4 linked regions of the Homo sapiens genome follow. The protein of the gene in region 1 purifies or fractionates together with the protein of each later gene. This does not show direct contact. Each region holds a gene or a part of one and is shown in the gene's direction. Other genes may lie near its edges.

The links.
Region 2: the proteins of PRPSAP2 (region 1) and GALNT16 purify together in Homo sapiens (affinity purification with mass spectrometry; 2 studies listed by BioGRID and IntAct, with this or other methods). This does not show direct contact.
Region 3: the proteins of PRPSAP2 (region 1) and TPD52 fractionate together in Homo sapiens (co-fractionation; one large-scale study listed by BioGRID). This does not show direct contact.
Region 4: the proteins of PRPSAP2 (region 1) and IVNS1ABP purify together in Homo sapiens (affinity purification with mass spectrometry; 2 studies listed by BioGRID and IntAct, with this or other methods). This does not show direct contact.

What each region holds. Positions count from the first base shown.
Region 1 is NC_000017.11:18,927,565-18,931,130, forward strand, and holds part of PRPSAP2 (phosphoribosyl pyrophosphate synthase-associated protein 2), read left to right. Parts: intron 1-1,246; coding exon 1,247-1,393; intron 1,394-2,975; coding exon 2,976-3,134; 3' UTR 3,135-3,566. UniProt on the Homo sapiens protein: Seems to play a negative regulatory role in 5-phosphoribose 1-diphosphate synthesis.
Region 2 is NC_000014.9:69,319,118-69,322,683, forward strand, and holds part of GALNT16 (polypeptide N-acetylgalactosaminyltransferase 16), read left to right. Parts: intron 1-1,593; coding exon 1,594-1,751; intron 1,752-3,566. UniProt on the Homo sapiens protein: Catalyzes the initial reaction in O-linked oligosaccharide biosynthesis, the transfer of an N-acetyl-D-galactosamine residue to a serine or threonine residue on the protein receptor.
Region 3 is NC_000008.11:80,168,735-80,172,926, reverse strand, and holds the start of TPD52 (tumor protein D52), read left to right. Parts: upstream 1-1,362; 5' UTR 1,363-1,483; coding exon 1,484-1,502; intron 1,503-1,805; exon of another isoform or gene 1,806-1,906; intron 1,907-4,192. Other genes in the region: TPD52-MRPS28 protein, read left to right, coding at 1,484-1,502.
Region 4 is NC_000001.11:185,303,694-185,307,259, reverse strand, and holds part of IVNS1ABP (influenza virus NS1A-binding protein), read left to right. Parts: intron 1-120; coding exon 121-246; intron 247-632; exon of another isoform or gene 633-772; coding exon of another isoform or gene 773-775; intron 776-1,616; coding exon 1,617-1,724; intron 1,725-3,566. UniProt on the Homo sapiens protein: Involved in many cell functions, including pre-mRNA splicing, the aryl hydrocarbon receptor (AHR) pathway, F-actin organization and protein ubiquitination.

The sequences.
Region 1 (3,566 bases):
AGGTTGGGGCTATTATACATAAAACTCGCTATGTACATTCATGTATAGGTTTTTGTGTGAACAGAGTTTTAATTTCTCTGGGATAATTGCACTTACAAATGCAGTTGTTGGTTTGCATGGTAGTTGCAGATATACTCTTATAAGAGACTGTCAAACTGTTTTCCAAAGTGGCTGTACCATTTTACTAGTAGGACTTTTAAAGTAGCGTGTGTGTGTGTGTATGTATTTTTTTTGAGGTATGGTCTGGGTCTGCTGCCCAGGTTGGAGTGCAGTGGCTTGATCACAGATCACTGCAACTTCTACCTCCTGGCTAAAGCAATCCTCCTGCCTCAGCCTCCCAAGTAGCTAGGACTACAGGTGCGTACCTCCATGCATGGCTAATTTTTGCTTTTCTGTTTTTGTAGAGACTGGGTTTCGTCATGTTGCTCAGGCTGGTCTTGAACCCCTGAGCTCAAGCAATCCTCCCACCTCAGCCTCCCAAAGTGCTGGGACTACAGGCATGAGCCACCACGCCTGGCCTTTATATGTATATTTTTGATCATAGTAACATCAGTATGCAATTAAAGAGTAATAATATGTATGTAAAATAAAGACACGAATATTTATTCAACTCTAGACAACGTTTGATGCCATAATGGGTTTAAAATAACTCTGGGAGCCTGGGAATCTAGTCTCTAGATTGGAAACCACTGAACTGGGTATTTTATTATTAAAAACAATAATCATTATTATTTTTTCCATTGTAATAACATGTAAAAAAACATATTTCCCATATGCTCAGTGGAGAAAATTTGGAAATAAGGAAAGTAGCAAGAAGAAGTGGGGGGAAAGAGGCACCCATAATTCTATTACCCAGAGTCAAAAACATCTTTTAACACTTTTTCTGTGCATTAAAAACAAAAAAAGAAAATTATACCTCCATCATTTCTGGTGTGACCTGCATTGTGACAGCACAATGTTGGCCAGTTATGGTGCAGAAAACAGTGCTACCCCTGGGAGCCTGGAGTGTGGTGGGAGATAGCTCCAATAGTGGCAGGTGCTGTGCAGGAAGAGGCTCGTGTGAAAGTACTGGAGGGCTGCCATGGGGCACGGTGATGGGGACATGGGGCCATGCCGTCTGCACAAGGCCAAGTGGAAGAGCAGATTTTTCACGGTAAATGTAGGCAGACCCTTTTTTTTTCCTGGTTGTCTAACCTATTATTGTAGAAGTGCTCATATACATTCTTTTCCATCTGTGCTTTGGCAGGATGACATCATTGATGATGTTGACAGCTTTCTTGCTGCAGCAGAGACCCTGAAGGAAAGAGGTGCATATAAGATCTTTGTGATGGCAACTCATGGCTTGTTGTCTTCTGACGCCCCCCGGCGGATTGAAGAGTCTGCCATTGATGAGGTAACAGGGTCTGGGTGTGTGTGGGTACAGCTGCCTGGGCTTTTGGCACATCTTGATCTTTAGTTACAGAGAGTCAGGACAAGACTGAGATCTTTTGTGGCTGAGAAACGATTCAAGGGCTGGGTGCAGTGGTTCACGCCTGTAATCCCAGCACTTTGGGAGGCCGAGGCAGGTGGATTACCTGAGGTCAGGAGTTGGAGACCAGCCTGGCCAACAGGGTGAAACCCCGTCTCTACTAAAAATACAAAAATTAGCCGGGCGTGGTGGCACACACCTGTAATCCCAGCTACTTGGGAGGCTGAGGCAAGAGAATCACTGGAACCCAGAGGGCAGTGGCTGCAGTGAGCCGAGATTGTGCCACTGCATTCCAGCCTGGGTGACAGAATGAGACTCTTGTCTCAAATAATAATAATAATAATAATAATAATAATAATGTGTACAACTCATTGGTTTTTAGAATGTTCAGAGTTGTGCAGTCATTACCATAGTTGGTTTTAGAACATTTTCTTCTTCCTAGAAAGGAACCCCATACCCATTAGCTGTCACTTCACATTTTCTCTCACTGCCATTAGTCCCTGGGAACCACTAATCTGCTTTCTGTCTCTCTAGATTTGCCTGTTCTGGACATTTCATATAAATGAGATTATACAATGTGTGGTCTTTTGTGTCTGGCTGTCTTCACTCAACATAATATTTTCAAGGTTCATCCATGTTGGAGCATGAATCAATACTTCATTTTATGATCAAATAATGCTGTGTTACATGGATAGTCCACATTTTGTCTCTCTCTTCGTATTTCATGTTGATAGAAAAAATTTTTTTTCTACTTTTTAACTTATGAATGGTGCTGCAGTAAACATTTGTGTACAAGTTTTTGTGTGGACATGTGTTTTCTCTTCTCTTGGATACGTACCTAGGTTTAGAACTGCCAGGTCATACAGTAACTTCATGTTTAAACTTTCAAGGAGCTGCCAGACTGTTTTTCAAAGCAGCTGCGCCATTTTACATTCCCACAGCCGTGAGTTGGGGGGGGGCTCCAGTTTCTCTGCATCCCTCCAGTACTTGTTATTATCTTTTTTGCCATACCTATCCTAGTGGGTGTGAGGTTATCAAATCTTAACCTAAGAAACACAGGCTGGGCGCGGTGGCTCACGCCTGTAATCCCAGCACTTTGGGAGGCCGAGGCCGGTGGATCATGAGGTCAGGAGGTCGAGACCATCCTGGCTAACGCGGTGAAACCCCGTCTCTACTAAAAATACAAAAAAATTACTTGAGCGTGGTGGCGGGCGCCTGTCGTCCCAGCTTACTTGGGAGGCTGAAGCAGGAGAATGGCATGAACCCAGGAGGCAGAGCTTGCAGTGAGCTGAGATGGCATCACTGCACTCCAGGCTGAGCGACAGAGCAAGACTCCGTCTAAAAATAAATAAATAAATAAATAATTGAAACATTGACTTGAGACATAGATCCACTGTGTTTTCCTGTCGTGGCAAGCCTCAGATTTGAGAAGCTGTCACATTTCCAGATCAAACCATGAAGCTACTTGGCTTTCTGATGCTGTGGTTTTTTTTCTTTTGCTTCACAGGTGGTGGTCACCAATACAATTCCACATGAAGTCCAGAAGCTCCAGTGCCCCAAGATTAAAACTGTGGATATCAGCATGATCCTTTCAGAGGCGATCCGTCGGATCCACAATGGGGAGTCCATGTCCTACCTTTTCAGAAACATAGGCTTAGATGACTGAGTTTTCCTTTAGGAAAACTCCCGAGGGCCAAACTGGAAACATAAGAGTGACTGCTCGGTGGGATGGATTTCACAGGAACCGTCATGCTTGTTCCTCCCTCTCCCCTGTAACCTCACTTCTTATTGATTCCTAAGAAGATAGACCAACTTTTTATGTCGGTTTGGGTGTTTGTGAGTTTGGGGAGCAATTTTTATAAAAGAAAAACTTTATTCTCCTCTTTTGAAAAGGTAAGACCTCGTTTTAGTTGTAACTGTTTAAAAAATAACACTTGGAATAAGATTTGTAAGCTCACAAAGCCTTCTTCCAAAGTTGCTTGAGCCAAGTGCTTAAAAAGTTAATAAAATAAAATGATCTGTATGATACCTGCAATTGAAAAGCCGAAAAGATTATACTGTCAAGTCCAGTAAATGACATTTTTAGAGATGCTTTTGT
Region 2 (3,566 bases), on another chromosome or scaffold:
GTGGGCCCAGTGGACACGAGGACATCTCCCTCACTGTTCTGCCCTCAGGGAACCTCCAACTGGCTCCTAGGACAGGAGGCAACCCTAGAAGGTAGTATCGCTACAGAGTGGCAGCAGTTCAGGAGATCAGAGCTCCCCGGACCCTGGGCATGCCTGTCCAGTGAGGTCGGGGGCTAGGCTCTCAGGGGAACATAGAGGCCCTGAGCTGCTGGTGACAGTCCCAGTGTCATTCCACACAGCGATCCACTCCCCACAGGTCTAGCTGCCTTGCTGGGACCATCCCTCTAGGACTAGGCCTGTGATAGCATCCTCATGCAAGAGTTTTGTGAGTGGGCAATTCTCACCCTCCTTTCTGCTTCCTCTGGGGCCCCAGCTTCAGCCCAGGGCTGATGGTTGGGCGGAAAGTTGGAGTTGGGATGTACCCACAGTTGATGATATTTCATGGCACTCTGGAGAACATCCAGCCAGCAGTTTGGTTCAAGTAATGAGATGTCAGGGTGCTTGCATCCATCTGTTAATTTCAGATGTGTCCTTCCCCAGTGTCTGTTGCTGGAGACTCTGGGAGCACAGGGTAGGGTGTGGCCATGAAGGAACGGGATGGGCAATGGCATCTGCCATCCATCACTGCCCAGCACTTAGTGCCTGGGGACCAGTGGATCTTACAGGGGCCATTTCAGGAGCAAGCAAAAGTCCCAGAGAAGATGCATCACTGTCTGAGCACTTGAGTTCTGGTAGCTCTGGCATCAGCCTGCAGGGGTTTGCTGTCCTTACAGGTAGTTCTTTATGCAGCAGATTGTCCAAGCCCTGGTGTTTTACTGATCGGGTGCCTCATATAATGCCTAGGCCAGGGCTAGGCCCAAGTTTCTGCCTAGGAGACTGTCAATCTGCAGGCGCTTGGCAGCATCCATTCTGGTTTGTAGTCCCCTCAGGACACCTTGCCTTAGAGGTCTGGTGCACTCCAGGACTCACCCCCCCAATATCCCGCAAAGAACATTGGTTAAGAGCATGGGCTTTGGAGTCGGAATGACCAGTTTAAATCCAGACCTTGTGACTTAATAGCTCTGACCCTGGATGCTTTTTAAAAAGCCTCTTGATGGCCGGGCGCGGTGGCGCATGCCTGTAATCCCAGCACTTTGGGAGGCTGAGGTGGGTGGATCACTTGAGGTCAGGAGTTCAAGGCCAGCCTAGCCAACACCACGAAACTCCACCTCTACCAAAACTATGAAAATTAGCTAGGCGTGGTGGTGCGCACCTGTAATCTCAGCTACTTGGGAGGCTGAGACAGGAGAATCGCTTCAACCTGGGAGGCAGAGGTTGCAGTGAGCCAAGATCTGCACTCCAGCCTGGGTGACAGAATAAGACCCTGTGTCAAAAAAAAGAAAAAAAAAAGAAAAAAAGAAAAAAAAAGAAACCCTCTTGAGCCTCAGTTTTCTCTTCTGTACAGTGGGGGAGATAATGGTCTCCTCCTCATAGAGTTGGCGTAAGGCACAAATGAGGCCACGTGGCTGGCTCCCGCCTGGTGTGTGCTGAGCACTCGCCAAGCAGTGGGGTCCTCCTGCCTGTGGTCCTCTCTGATGCTGACCTTCATCTCAGGTGACAGGAACTCCCTCGAAAGGCTTTGATGAGAAGGCCTACCTGTCGGCCAAGCAGCTGAAGGCTGGAGAGGACCCCTACAGACAGCACGCCTTCAACCAGCTGGAGAGTGACAAGCTGAGCCCAGACCGGCCCATCCGGGACACCCGCCATTACAGGTACGGCCTCCATCGTGTCAGTGGAGGAAGAAAGACTGAGAGAAAGCCAACATTGTTTAGTTTGTCTTCTTTTACGTGTATCTAAGAAATGAGGATGATTTCCTCAGACTGTGTCCAGTGATTTAGACATTCAAAAACCCTCACCCTCTGTTGCTGGTTTACCTGGCCTACTGAGGCCCTGCCAAGACCAAGGAAACCGCTCCGCTGGGGCCAAGGAGGCCCCAAGGCACTTCAGTCTGGCGCCCCAGCAAAAGTGACCTGGGAGGGGACCAAAGGAGGTCCGTGGCAGTGGGTGAGCCAGGCGCTCTTGGGGCCTTACTGGTGGTGCCTAAAGTGGAGAGAGTCACAGCCCTGCACATTGCAAACAGTGGGGTGCTGTGGCCCACCCCATTGACCTCCCTTTCCTGCACCACAGCTCCACCTCCTCAGCAACTCCCAGAAATGCTTCCTAGTCTTGTTCTTAGTTCTCTCAGTATGGTGAGGTGGGAGAGGCCTTAGACCAGGACCAAGGAAGCCTCCACTCTCATCCCAGCTCAGTGTGCGTGACCGGCCTTAAGCAAGGCATTAGCCCCTCTCTGGGTCTATGCCCTTGTGTGTTCTGTCTAGAGGGTGAAAGTCACCATCTCCAGTCTTTCCTCTTCCTGCCGTCACCTGCACGAACAGTCTGAGTTCCTGATGCTGAAGCACCACCCCCCGCTCCCCATGACCTGGCCTTACCCACCTTTCCCCCAGCACTTGATGGTCCTGCAGTCCCAGATTCCTCCCTCCTTCCTTCCTTGCTTTCACACATGCTGTTTCCTCTGCCTAAACGCACCTCCTCCGCCCCACCTACCCTTTGAGCTACTTGGCTCACTTCGAGGACACTTGGCTCACTGTCCTCTCCTCCATGGAAGGCTCCTTCCCAACCCGGGCTAGGTTGGGCCCCTCTTCTGTGCTCTGTGCAGACATCTCACAGAATGGCCAGGGCGCTGTTGGAGCTGACTCACGGCTGTGCCTGCAGCTGTGTGCTCAAAGCTAGGCTGGGCCTCCGTCTGGTCCTGGCTTGAGGGTAGCAACAATGACTTGGATCAAGGTTGCTTTTACTTCTGAAGCAGCTACTCCACAGCACAAAGGGTATAGGTGAGGTGAGGGTGCGAGAGGGCCTGGTTCTAGCACCTTCCTTGTCACTCACAGATGCATGCCTGAAGTCCAGGGTGCTTGGTGGCCTGTGCAAGGTGAGATGAACACAGGGCTGGGGGAGCCCCAGACCTTGGCCTTGCTGTCCTGTAACGCCAGCACTGTCAGCCTCCAGAAACCACTCATGCAGCCAAGTAAGGCAGTACTCCTGCTTCGCGGCAAGGACACCACCAGGCCTGCTGGCTGTTTCTGGGCCTCAGAAGTTCTTTCTCACCCAGTCCTGGGCAGCATCCCCTCCTGTCTGCCTGTGCTGCAGAAGAGGTTACATCCACATAGCTCCACTTAGAGACCTTTCATGGGCAGCCCTAGCCATGGCTGACCTAGTCCCAGGGTCTAGAGGATCTGTTGGCCCCAATCTGTGAATTGAGGGCTTGCCCTGGATAATCTCTGTTCACCCCCCAGCTTACCTGACTCTGAACCGCCTCAGGTGCTCACTGAGAAACTTAAAGGGGGAATTGCCCTGGGGGCTATGTACATTTTTAAATGAGACGCTTTAAATCCAGGGTAGTGGTGGGTTGATGAGGTGCCACATGCTGCTGCTGGGCCCTGTCAGAAAGCTGAGGTGGGCCAGGCACGGTGGCTCACACCTGTAATCCCAGCACTTTGGGAGGCTGAGGTGGGTGGATCATTTGAGGTCAG
Region 3 (4,192 bases), on another chromosome or scaffold:
TCAAACTCCTGACCTCAAGTGATCCACCCGCCTTGGCCTCCCGGAGTGCTGGGATTACAGGCGTGAGCCACCGTGCCAGGCCTGTTTTTTGATTTTTTTAATAGGCCATTTTAAGGACTTTACCACCTGGAGCTTGTAACCTAATAGGACTGTGAAACATACACTGGTAGCATCCTGGCACCAGTGCTGGGGTGAGTGCCACAGGAGAGGAGCCAAGTGCAGTCAGAGTAGAAGGACTCAAATAGAAGAGATCACATCTGGTTGAGTCAAACAGTAAACGTCCCCAGAAGACACTGGAAGATGCAGGCTGGAGAGAGCTACACTTTACATACAGCACGACAGTATAGAGATATTAATAGCATACAGTCACTTCAGGTAACTACAAGTAATTTTAAAACATCTGAATAAGTGCTTCTTTGTTGTCTGTGGAGTGCTACACAATGCTTCGGCCTAAACGTCAAGCAACACAGAAAAGAAGCCCCACTTCATTTGCAGCCTCAGATAGCTTACGAAATTGAGACACCACCTGAAGACCATGACCCATACAATCAAAGTGACTTCATGGAAGACGAGTAACTGCAAAACCCTGTGAAAACAGATTGTTAACGCTACTAATGAAAAGAACTGGATTGTTACGGGAACCTCAAACTGTCCTTTGATCAACGGACATGACGCCTCAACACGCATTTTCCAAAGATCTCTGCTGATAATTCTGACCTTCGGTTAATTTAATTAATTTCATTTGATTTAATTCATTTTAGTGTTGTCCTCAGTCCCGCACTCAAAACAGATTTTTATTATATGAAAATCTTCCTAGTCACCTAAAAAATCCGCATTCTATGGAAAAGACTATATAATTTTTCAAGAGATTCTTTGCAATTTTCACCTATGCTGGTTTATGACCTAGTTAGAGAAGACATCATAGGGCATTATTTAGGTAATAAAATACAGAGAGAAAAGAGCCACTGGCATTTCTAAATAACGTTCCTGTGTTTCCTACTGTAAGTATAGGAAAGTAGGTGTTCGCAGATGCAGAGAAAGGGCATCTCCAAGGCCTCGGAGGAAACTTTTGATTTTATAAATAACTTGATGGTGGAAGGCAAACGCCATCCCGGTTCCCAAGCAGGCTCCACGCAGCCTCCATGGCCGAGTCCATCTCCTCGCCGTCCTCTTCCCTCCTCCCGGCCGACTTCCAGCCGGTGCGGGAGTCGGGGTGCGCCCGGCCCTCCTAGCGCTGCGCCGCCCGCGCCGACGTGGCGGAGCGCACAGGTCGACCGGGTCAGGTGGTTGGGTGACGCCCCAGGAAAGCGCTCCAGGCCGAGGGCGGGCGGCGCCGCCGCGCCCGACGCCTCTGGGGGTGGGGACTTCGCGGGAGTCGCCGGCGGAGGCGAGGAGGAGCTCTGCGCGGCGCGGCGGGCGATCCGAGCCGGGACGGGCTGCAGGCGGGGGTGCTGCAGAGGACACGAGGCGGCGGGCTGGAGACATGGACCGCGGCGAGCAAGGTGAGGGCGCGGACCCAGCGGGCTTGGGCTCGGGCTTGGACTCGGGCTTGGACTCGGGCTTTGGCTCGGCGCGGGGCTGAGCGCGGCCCGGCGGCTCGAGCAGGTGCCGAGCCTCCTGGGCCGGCGCCGCAAGTTGCATCTCCCGGATCCGGATCTGGCATCCTGGGGCCCTGGAAGGAGCGGCTCTGGCGGGGGCAGATGGGACTGCATGTGTGAGTGTGAGTGTGCGTGTGTGGGGGAGAGGGAGAGAAGGTTCTGGGAGGTGGCGAAGGGGCTAGCGTCAGGGGCTGGCGGCCGTGATGCGCTTTGGGTGGAAAGCCGCGTGAAGGGAGCACGGCGCAGCCAGCTCCTGTAAGTGACTGGAACCAGGAACAGAGGACAGTGAGTCGCTCTCGTCCCTCCAGGTGGGAAACCCCTCTCTCCCTCATAAATTAAGACTTTCTGCCTTCTTCTAAGTTCAGGTGGTTAGGATTTTTGGTGGCGTATGACCCATGGGGGGTTTGGGAGGCAGATATTTATCATACTAGAAACCCCCAGATTGTGGAGTGGTGTCTGTGGGTTTGAGGGAAGAGAGCTTTTCGTAGGAAGGGTGAAATCCCACAACACAAAACCTTCAGTCTAATTTACCATAGCGTTGGGTGCACTTGCTTCTGAAAACAGCTCAAGTGAAATTACCCCCAAATAGAGCAATAGTAGGCCATGGTTTTCAGATTTAAATAGTTTCATCCTAGAGATCTCTGCTGATCATAAGCCTGTGACTGTACGCAGATGTGTGTGGCACGCTTTTAAAAAGATACATAAATGCTGAAAAAAGAAAACAAGGTAGGTAATCTTGGGAAGTGAGGATAGGAATCACTCCTGTTTTGAGCCCTGACACAAGTTTTCATGTATTGCTTATTTTCCTCCAGTATGTGCCGTCATGTGTGCATTTTTATGTAAATCAAACCATATTCCAAATATACTATCTTGTACTTTATTTTTTTCAGACTCTGGTGTTTTTTTTGTTTGTTTTTTTGAGTCTCCACCTGTAGCCCAGGCTGGAGTGCAGTGGCGGGATCTCAGCTCACTGCAACCTCTGCCTCCCTGGTTCAAGTGATTCTCCTGCCTCAGCCTCCCAAGTAGCTGGGATTACAGGTGTGCGCCACCACAGCCCGGCTAATTTTGTATTTTTAGTAGAGACAGAGGTTTCTCCATGTTGACCAGGCTGGTCTCCAAGTCCTGACCTCAGGTGATCCACCCGCCTCAGCCTCCCAAAGTGCTGGGATTACAGGTGTGAGCCACTGGGCCAGGCCTGTACTTTACTTTCATTTACTTGTAAGATAGACTCTTTGGAGTCTTTCAGCTCTTTCCTCGCTCCCCTTCAGATTAATTTCAGACTTAACACAAGTGCTTACAAACATTACATACAATATGCTTTATATGTGTTACCTATGTGTATATATATATTATACATTACCTGTATAACGTATATATACACATACATATTATTATCTAAATTTTAAGCTTCTTGAGGTTAGAAACATTTCATCTTTGGTTGTCCTGAGTGGGATAACATGATGACTTGTACATAGTAGACATGCAAATGTTTGAGTTAGAAAGCTTGTCACATGTCTTGTATATATTGTTAGCCGGCTTAGGGGCCACCATGTAAGTCAGCATTATGTCTGTCTGGCTTTCAATGGGGGCGACGCAGGACGGGGGAGACATGACGACAAACGTGCCCATGTGTATTTGTATACTAATCTGTTACACACTGTCGTTTGACATAATGATGTTTTTAGAATAACTATGTTTGGTACTTGTCAAAGTAAATTAAACGGCTGTGTTTTACTTACGTGAGTGGAGTAACTAGTTTTAGTAGTGTTTGTGTTCTAGCTTGGGTGGTAAGAATCAACAGTCATTGGTAGCACTGCAGTATTCCAACTTCTTGTGTAGTTTTTATAGGACTAGTTTAAGTGTCTAATTCTAAGACATATTTTTTTCAAATCTTTATCTTGTAAGATGAGTCTTTTCGTGTCTATAATTTTCCCATATGTTCTTTGGGTGAGGTGGAGGACTCTGCTCCGAATGAAAGAAGAGGCACTGCCTTGGGAGGGTCAGTTCATTTACTCCAAAGCTTTGCTGTGTTAGAACAACGTGGCCAAGGCTGGGTGCGGTGGCTCACACCTGTAATCCCAGCACTTTGGGAAGCTGAGGCAGGCAGATCACTTGAGGCCAGGAGTTTGACCCCTGTCCAACAAGGTGGAACCCTGTCTCTACTAAAAATACAAAAATTAGCTCGGCGCGGTGGCACCGGCCTGTAGTCCCAGCTATTCAGGAGGCTGAGGCAGGAGAATCACTAGAAACTGGGAGGCAGAGGTTGCAGTGAGCTTAGATCAAACCACTGCACTCCAGCCTGGGCGACAGAGCGAGACTCTATCTCAAAAAACAAACAAACACAAAACAAAACCACCTGGCCATTCCTTACTCTTGCTTCCACCTGCCTACCTGCCTTTTCATCTTTATGTTACCAGTGCACACAGTAGGTGCTTAGAAATATGTGTTGACTGCCTAAGATGAGTGAGGAAAGTGTCCAAGAGCAGGCCCCAGCCATAGTAACCTCTGTGTCCCTCCAAATCCATCTCTTGTTTCCCACTTTCTCCTGTTCTGTTTTCCCTGTCTATTCTCAAGAAGCAGAACTTAGCCAGAGA
Region 4 (3,566 bases), on another chromosome or scaffold:
AATTAGAGTAAATGTATGGAATGAATTGTGCATCTGTGACAACTTTATTATGAAATTGGGAATTAAGCTGAGAACTAGGAGCCCAACACTGATCCATGTCATTGTTTTTCCCAATTCTAGTTGGAGGTAATGCTTGAAGATAATGTTTGCTTGCCCAGCAATGGCAAATTATATACAAAGGTAATCAACTGGGTGCAGCGTAGCATCTGGGAGAATGGAGACAGTCTGGAAGAGCTGATGGAAGAGGTTAGTTTTAAAGTAAATGGGATTCAACCATTTTTAAAAATTATTTTGCTATAACATGAAGGATTCCCTTTCACTTTTATTTTATAACCATGACCCTAAAGAATTTAAATTTTGCTATAGGTACCCCTAAGCTGAGAAACAGGGGGGGTGTCCAGGTGAGCTGAATGAACTGTTCAGTTTGGTCTTCTGCTTTTCTTTTTTTATTTCTTTGCTTATTATGTGCTGTTAACTTTCTTTAAAGTAGCATGTAATTTGCTTTAGAAATGGGAAGTGGTACTGAAATTTTCTGTAGATTCTTAATTTTTCTTCACAGGTTTTTGCTTTAAATTTGACAAGTAGGTAAAAGCTTCTAATGGTTGTTCCTCCCCATTGATTTATCTCCCCATAGGTTTATTAACAAAACTAGGATACCCAAGACTGAAGAAACAAGAAGAAACCTCAAGTGTATTGACACGTAAAGAAGCAGCAGTCCTGCCCCAGTTCTCCTAAGAAAAATCCGCTGTGGGCAGAGAACGATGATGATTTAATGGTGTTTACTCCTTTACAGGATTCTTGTCTTTAAAGCTGTGTGTTTTTCAATGGTGTTGTTCATACATATAGTCACTCACTTAACTTGGGCTACTTTTAAAAAAAATACACAAGATAAAATTGATGGAGAAATGGTGGGAATTGAAAACACGCAGGTGGAGCAGTGGAGTAACCTTGAGTTTCTCTCTCCACTTAAACCTTTCGGAGTTCCTTTATGAGGGCTTACCAAATCTGTTAGGCCTGCAGAAACACTGTCATCATTATGGTCTAAAAGGGCTAACAGATTATCTTTAAATTCTATGATTCCCACTTGAAAGTCAGATGCATTTGCCATGTATTTGCATCTGTCTCAATGGAGATGACTCTACAGCTTGCTTGAATTTTTGCATTTGTTTTTTCTTTGTTTTTCTTGACATTGCTTACAGGAAGGAAATATGTTTATGCAAACCAGACCACTTATCTGCAAAGGTGTAAACTATATTCAGTATTTTATTGTAAATATGTATATTCTTTAAGAGTATATATTGTACTAGTGCTTTTTTTCTTACTGTTATATGATAGAAGCTATGAAAAAAATGAAGATTTCTTTCAAGCCAATCAAGCCAACGACTCTTCAGCCAGTATTGGAAGATTTTGTATTTGATTTTGGTTTTTTGTTTTTGTTTTTTAATTTTTACCACCATGACATGTATTTTTCTTTACCTCCGGATCCTGCCAGAGTAATATGTCAAGAAGCTCAAGAAGCACACTGGAGGTTACCTTGAGGCGTTTGTGTAATCTGCATACTAGTGGAGTAGCCATGGTGACCGTAGCCACATGGGTGTTCTGTTGCTGTTTTGCAGGTTCAAACCTTGTACTACTCAGCTGATCACAAGCTGCTTGATGGGAACCTACTAGATGGACAGGCTGAGGTGTTTGGCAGTGATGATGACCACATTCAGTTTGTGCAGGTACACATTGCACAGTCTGAGGTAACCTCAGGTTAAAATTTGACTAGAGAATTTGATAGCATACTTAAATTTTCCTTTAATAAAGGAAAGTGGACCAATTTCATTGGTATAACTGGACAGAAACATTTTTGGGAGAAAACAAGCATATCTTAGAGTTAGTATTTTTGCCACATGAAAAGATATTAACAAATTAGGAAACCCTATTGAAATTTTTTTCTCATAAAGCAGGAATTACAAACAGTAAAGGCCAATAAGATGGAACAATATAGAAATTATTTGGGAAGATTATGAAAAGCAGTTGTTTGTGTCAGGCATGACTGATAGTTTTTTTTAAAAAGGGGCAGGGGGACTTAAATTGTTGATGGCTATGAAAGAAATTTTTGGATGTTACCTTAACTACTGAGCTGTCTTACTGGAAATTAGAAATGGTATAGTTAAGATGGACTATACAATGTAATAAGTCTAAAAGTGGTGGATCATATGTTAAAACCTGATCTAGATGTTTCTTTAACCAAGATGAATTAAAATATAGTAGAGTTCCACTGTGCTGATTGAGTTACTTTGCCTTTTATAAAATCCAATTTCATTTTTCCCCTATGAGTAAACACATAATTATTCAGACACATTATCAACAATTACTAGAGAACAAACTTCTCAAGTATAAATTTTTTAAGTTTATGGACAAATACAGAAAAGTACACAAGTCATAATTACCACATAGTGAACCTACCAGTGTAAACACTACCCAAGTCAAGAAGAGGTTTCTAGCATCCCGGCAGCCTTTCTCTTGCCTCTTCCCAACCGTTTCCGTATAGTGCTCCCAAAGGAAACCATTATCCTACCTTCTGACACATTAAATTAGTTTGGCTATGCTTGAAAAAATTTATATAAATGGTCATATAGTATATATTTTTATTTGGCCTTTAGCTCAAATTATGTTTTTGAGGGACAAGCTATAAAGCAGTCGACTCAGCCCAGACTAAGGAATGCTTTTCTTTAAAAATCAGAGGGTAAGTGGTAGACTTAGTAGTAGCCTATATGGTTACAAATTATCAGGTGTTAGCTCTCTCAGGTGTCCTGTGGCAACAGTGAGTGAATATTTCTAAAAGTTTTGGAATTTGAATTAGTTGAGAACCTATGTTTGTGCATTTTGAATATATTGAGGATATTTTCCCCCTTAACTCTAAACATTTTGAGTTAACATTTTAAAAGTACATTTTCAACATGCAGAGGTTGAGTGCCCAATAAGTGGCAGGCCATAATGTTCGGTATGGCAACACAAAAATGTGTAAGAGACAGTTTCTGCTTGTAGGACCTTCTAAGAGTGGGCAAAACAATACAGGCTTATAAGAGGTAGCTACGAAAGGCCTAAAGGAGAGGACACAGTGAGACAGGAGAGAAGCCAGGGATATTTCACACAAGAGGTAACTTTTGAGCAGTGTTAGGATTTAGAGGAGTCTGCATAGCAGATAAAGGGAGAGGTGTTAGCAAAGAGTATCTGTGAGGATGATACTCTTGGAATTGCAGGTCATAAGACTGGGAAAGTAGGTAAATGCTCCCTGAATGGGGCTTATACTTTATCCTATAGGCAGTGGGAAGCCTTAGGTAAGAATACAGTGATACGAAAGTTTTGCATTCACTTTAGTAATGGTGAAAAACTGGGGAACAGTCTATTAGGTGGCAGTCTTTGGGCTGGAATATCCCAACTGATTTCTGGTTTTATTTTCTAAAATTGTTGCCTTGGACCCTTCCTATTTTTATAACCAGACACAGAAAATCAATAAAAGTTTGAGCCCAGTTTATAGACTATTGCCAGCAGTAGTTCAGGTTTTAAAAAAATGA